Linked DNA regions of Homo sapiens: region 1 is linked to region 2. Evidence: fine-mapped expression QTL. Tissue or cell type: lung. Region 2 holds a variant in brackets; the other region holds the start of a gene. All regions are shown on one strand. Distances are between the middles of the regions. Region 1 holds the start of PCBD1 (pterin-4 alpha-carbinolamine dehydratase 1). Region 2 overlaps SGPL1 (sphingosine-1-phosphate lyase 1).

Evidence for each region. PIP is the estimated chance that this variant, and not a neighbour inherited with it, causes the effect.
Region 1: PCBD1 starts here. The variant in region 2 is fine-mapped to the expression of PCBD1 in lung (TOPMed, PIP 0.92).

What each region holds. Positions count from the first base shown.
Region 1 is chr10:70,886,951-70,889,857 of GRCh38, forward strand. PCBD1 (pterin-4 alpha-carbinolamine dehydratase 1) reads right to left here and starts at 1,615. Exons shown (of 4, transcript NM_000281.4): 1 at 1,581-1,615. The coding sequence starts at 1,583. RefSeq lists silencers at 872-1,151, 1,482-1,731.
Region 2 is chr10:70,862,962-70,865,868 of GRCh38, forward strand. The region is part of intron 7 of SGPL1 (sphingosine-1-phosphate lyase 1); the gene reads left to right. Among named protein-coding and RNA genes, the nearest start is that of PCBD1, 24 kb to the right of the region's middle. The variant T/G (reference allele first, on the strand shown) is at 1,221.

The sequences.
Region 1 (2,907 bases), 24 kb after region 2:
CCAGGGCAGAAATAGAGTGCTGAATTGAAAAGATACCCTTAGGGGTGGGGAGGGAATGTGAGGGAGGTTGATTTAGCTTTTATGAGGCAGCCTGCAGACTGGACACCATGTGTTGATTGGCAGGAGTTTTGAGACCCGCTTTCACCATTTACCAGCCAGGTGGCTGTACCTCTCTTGGCAGAACCTCCACCTCCACAGATCATCATGAGGTGCCAATGGGACACTTTAGGAAACTCCACTGCTATAAAGCAAATGTCATCTGCATTACAAAAAAAAAACTTCCTAAGGCAAGCAGGCTTGTGATGGGCCTGGTAGCATTTGGGGTAGCTGAAGCATCGCAGTGCTTTCCTAAGTCCGTCTTTTTTCCCTGCTGTTTTCCCTCCTGAAAACGTGAGCTCTCTCTGGACTGATGTAGCTTGGCCCCTCTCTTCCCCTCGGCTCTGGATGACTATAGGGATTGAATGGCAGCAGCGATTTGCATCATCTGCCCAGTAGGTAGGTCTCTACTCCAGAGCTGGCCTTCTCCCCGTGGCTGACCGCCTGGTCCGTGTATCTAGACAACCAGAAGTCAGCCAAAGCATCAGAGCCCACTGTTTACTTCCTTGGCTCTTAAAGGGGTGGGTGAGTCCAGGTGAGCTCTTAGGAGGCTTCCCTTTCTCGGTAGAGCCTTCTGGAACCCCCCAGGTCGCACAGCCTGCGGCTGAACTGACAAACCTTCCAGGTGCCGGCTCTGGAGACAGAGAGGGGGACGCTGCCCCGTTTGCCTCCTCTGGCGAGGTGTGGGGAGTGGTTACCGATTTCCCAAGCCTGCATCTCTGGGACCTCAGCGCCCCTCACAAACAGCCCCACTCATCCTCCCTCCCCCAAGTCCCTCTCCTATCAAAAGGCCCTCCCAGTCTTGCCTGCTCCGAAGGCCTGTGGACCAGAAATGGTCTGATGAAGCTCGCGAGCTTACAGCAGAGCAAGGGCCCCGCCCCCGCCCCCGCCCCGGGGGTGGGTGGGGGAAGCTCACGGGAGGAGGGCTGCTCCAGCGCCACCAAGCCCCCGTGGCCTGGCACGGGCCTCAAGCCGGCGCGGGGAGTGGCTCTGGGGCCAGCATACCGGCGCAGAGCGTGAGTCCCAGGCAGACCCCGTACCCAGAGTGCCAGCGGGAAGGGGCAGCGGACAGGCACGCACACGAGCGCGCAAACTCAGCCTCCCTCTCGCTCCCACCCCAGTATAAAGCAGAATCGGGCCACCAAGGGGACGAGATCCGTGGACTCCTCCACGACTGTCTTCCCCGGCCCAGGAAGGTCGTAGGCCCCGCCCCCGGAAGGGTCCCGGAACAAGCACTGGCCGGGGTCAGGGCAGGCCTGGCCTCCCAACTGGGTGGGATTCGAACCCGCCACCGCCCCTCTCAGGGCTTCAGCTTCCCCTCCCCGCCGCCAGCGACAGAGAGCCGGGCAGAGACCCCACTTTCGGACCCCGGCGGCTCCGCAGGGGACTCGAAAAGACTTTCCCCCGCCCCTTCCCGCTCCCACCTCGCCCGCGGCTGCCCCGGCCCCGCTGCCCCGATCGCGGCCGCGCACCCCTGGACTCACCATGGCGCGGGCGGCAGCAGGTGGCCAGCGGAGAGGGCAGGCGGCGGCCGGGCGCGCAGGCTGCCGTCCCGGGGCGGGGCCGCGCTCGGGCCGCCCTCCGGTAATGATTAACGTCCCCAGCCAGGGACGCGCTCGGCCTGCTTGCTTCCAGCACTTTCCTCGCTGCTCAGAGCCATCCTCCGTGCTTGTTTCAGGGAGCTAGGGTGAAGCATGAGGGCTCCAAATGCCCGCTTCTGGGTTGGAATCCCACCCCGCCGCTTACAGCTGGGTGGCCCTGGGCGCCAGAATACCTATTTTTTTCTTTATAAAAATCTCTTATTTGGATATAATTGACATGCAATAAATTGCACATATTCAACGTGTACAATTTGATAAATTTTAATGTTTCCCTCGTGAGACCATCACCGAGATCAACATTATGAACATATCATCATCCCTGCAAGTTTTCCCTTGCCCTTTGGTAACCCCTTCCTCCCGAAACCACCTGGCCAGGCAAGCACTGATGTACTTTAGGTCACTATAAATTAGTTTGCATTTTCTAGAATTTTATGTAAATGGACCATAGAGTATATACTAGGCAGGATAACTGTTTTGGGGTTCAGCCATGTTGTTGCCTATATCAATGGTTTCTTCCTTTTATGGCTAAGTAAAATTTATTTTATAGTATTGCATTGTACAGATAGACTACAATTTGTTTAGCGATTCACTATTGGACATTTGCGTTGTTTACCTTTTGGCTATTACAAATAAAGCTGCTGCGAATATGGTGCACAAATCTTCGAAAGTACGTATGTTTTAATTTTCCTTGAGTAAACACTTAGGAATGGAATGCCTGGGTCATGTGGTAGGTGGACTTTTATAACTTATTAGGAAACTGCCATACTGTTTTGCAAAATGGTTGTATCATTTTATATTCCTAGCAGCAGTGTATGAAGGTTGCAGTTCTCTGTCCTCACCAACACTTGATATAGTCAGCCTTTTAAATTTTAATTGGTGTGTAGCAGTATCTCATTGTGGTTTTGAGTTTCCTTGATTAGTAATTGTATTGAATGTCTTTTCATGTACTTATTTGCTAAGGATAAGTTTTTTTTATTGAATAGCATGTTTGAATTTCCTGCCCATTAAAAAAGAAATTGGGTTGTCTTCTTATCGAGTTTTGAGGGTGTTTTATTCTGGATATAAGGACATGATCAGGCAGTGATTTGCAAATATTTTCTTTGCATTATCTTATGGTGCCTTTCAAAGAGCAAACGTTCTTAATTTTGATGAAATCCAATATATCAAATGTTTCTTTTATGGATTTCTATTTTGATGTTGTACACATAGA
Region 2 (2,907 bases):
TTCTGTTTTGTAGTTCTCCTTTTATTTTATTATTATTTTTTGAGACAGGGTGTCACTCTGTTGCTCAGGCCAGAGTGTAGTGGTGCCATCTCAGCTCACTGCAGCCTTGACCTCTCTGGGCTCAAGCGACCCTCCCACCTCAGCCCCCTTGAGTAGCTGGGACTACAGGCATGCACCACCATGCCTCGCTAATTTTTGTATTTTTAGTAGAGATGGGGTTTCACCATGTTGCCCAGGCTGGTGTTGAACTCCCAAGCTGAAGTGATCTGCCTGCCTTGGCTTCTCAAAGTGCTGGGATTACAGGCGTAAGCCACCACGCTTGGCCGTCTTTTTTTTTTTTTTTTTTTTTTAATCTGCTTGGTTGTTTTTTATAGTCCTTTTCCTTGGCTTAACTTTTGTTTACTTAAATATATTACACATAAATATGTTGTATTCTGTGTCTGATAATTCCAATATCCATGAGCCTTACCTGATTCTGCTGGCTTCAGTCATGGTTCCTTGTTTCCTTATATTTGTGATTTTATTTTATTTATTTATTTTTTTATGAGCCACTCATTTTTCTGGGAACCTAGGGATTCTTTGAGGCCTAGATTGAAGTTAAGTCTGGAAGTTCTCTTCTTCCAGAGAAGATTTGTCATACCTTTTTGAGTTGCTGGGGATTGCCACCACACTGGAACCAAATTAAGTCAAATCCTTAGCTTGTCATTTTGTACCACAGAGGTAGTGTGAATTCTGACCACAAACTCACATAAAGGCTTCCTTGTTACACATTCTTGAAAGATTGCTATTTTTCTTTACTTGAACATCAGGGTTGAGAAAAACAGTTTTTCTTTTCTCTTTTGCAGTAGTGGGATTTATTTCTTGTACACTGTAGAGTGTGGTCTTTTTCCAGCCATCTCCTGTTGGACTCCTTATCTTGGGCAGTCTCTAATGTATCTTCTGGTCCATCCTTTGCTCATCTGTCAGTGTAGGAGTTTGAAGTCTGAAGGGTCTGGTGCCACCTCAGGGTGAAAGCTAGTTTTGCCACTCACTTATCTTGCAGGATTCTTGATTTTGCTTTGTTTGGGGGTTTAGCAAGTTTCTTTATGTTAGGTTAGTGATAGGTTTAAATTTTTTTTTTTTGATGTTTTATCAAGTTTTTTAGTTATTTCAGTTAGGAAGGTTGCTCAAGGTATATAATATTGCTAGAAATAGAAGTTCCATAATTGTTTTTTCCATGT[T/G]ACAGACCTTCGTCTATTTGAAAGCCCCTTTCTCCCTGAATCTTCTCTGCCCCACATTTTTCTGGGTTACTCCGCTTTTCATATGATTTCACAGACTTCCAACCATCGCAGTCATTCTCTGTATGACTTTTGGTTGCCTCTGGCCAGATTGAACACAGTTCTCCACATTTGGAGTGGCATTGATCTTTCAATCTCTGTCTTTTTTAAATCTGGGTTCAATAAACTTATTTCAGACCTTTTCCTTGAAGTCAGCATTTTTATTCTTGGCAATGTTTATTTTATTCCTTGCTGTTCCTAATGTCTTTGTTAGTTCTGTATGGATGCTACTGGCTTTGTTTTTTTAGGTCTGTAGCTCATTCTTTTTGTTTCATGGTCTAGGTTTTGAACTCTTTGTTTTCTTAAATTCATGTTCTTATGATATTTTCCTATAGTGAGAAAGTTATAAGGGGTTTCCTTCATCCCTTAGCTTGTTTCCTTCTGTGTTGGGTTTTTATTTTGCATGCTACATACTACCTTTTCCCCTGCCTTTTAGTTTGTTTGCATAGTTTCCTTGCCATTTTCTCTCATCTTGGGGTGGCATTCTCCAGACATTGTTCTTATGCACTGTGGGTGCTTCCTGTCTGAGACCATTTGGCTGGGGACAAAGCTCAGCCAAAGCTTTGTTCTATCTGTATTAGAATAACCAGGTCTATTCTGAGATTCTCTTCAAAGTTACCTATCAGAGTTCACTCTCTTATTTGGAAGAGATAATATACCCTTTGAGCTCTGATTATTTAATTCACTGAAGTCTTCACTCTAAAGAGCCAATCCTGATGTTCTCTCTTCATTTTGCTCATTTCTCCCTAGCAGCCATGTTTACCACTCACTCATGAGAAGAAGAAGAAAATAAGGAAACCCCCTCAGCTTGCCTCTGCAGATTTGGGGGTATAAAGGAAAATTCTCAGGATTTTGCTGACTTTGCGGTACAGTTTCAAGGGCTGATTAGAAACTAGTGTTTTGCTTACTTCTGCTCTCTGCTGTTTCACTGTTTCTTTTTTTTTTTTGATTGCCAATATTTGAAGTTTATTGCCTAGATTATCTCTCTTTCCTTGTTTGGTTGTTGTTATTGTAGATTTTGACTCTTTTCTCTCCCTGCACTCACCCTTTTTTTTTTTCTTCCCATCTTACTCCTGAAGTCCAGGCCTAGGGGTTTTTTGCATTGCTGCAATTAAACCATATCTCTATTATTTTGATCTTCAGCACGTGTGAGGGATCAGAAGAAGGATAGAGTCTGATTCCCAGGCTCTTCTAATATTTAGACTTTTATAAAATAACTAATCAGCACTGGTATTGTCTTTTTCCCTCTCCCACTCTGTCTCCCCCACTCCTCCCTTAGCTTCTTACTTCTCTCTCTGGATGAGCTGCTTCTAGTGAAGAAAGAGTTCACTGTTCAGAGGTGGGAAGCCAGAAGATAAAACCAAATGGCTGGGCAGTCTTTAGGTTATTCCTAGCTAAGAGTTAAGAGTTGTAAGCTCTCTCATTCTTTGTTCTTCAGCCTTAAACTATCTTTCCTTCTATTAACTTTATTTGTCTCAGTTACAATGATAGAGGTAACTTCACATACTAAAAGAAATTAGGTTACCATGTGAAACATTCTTCTTGGCTTGTGCTAATGTTATCAGATCCAAACAGCATCTGAAAGAAAATT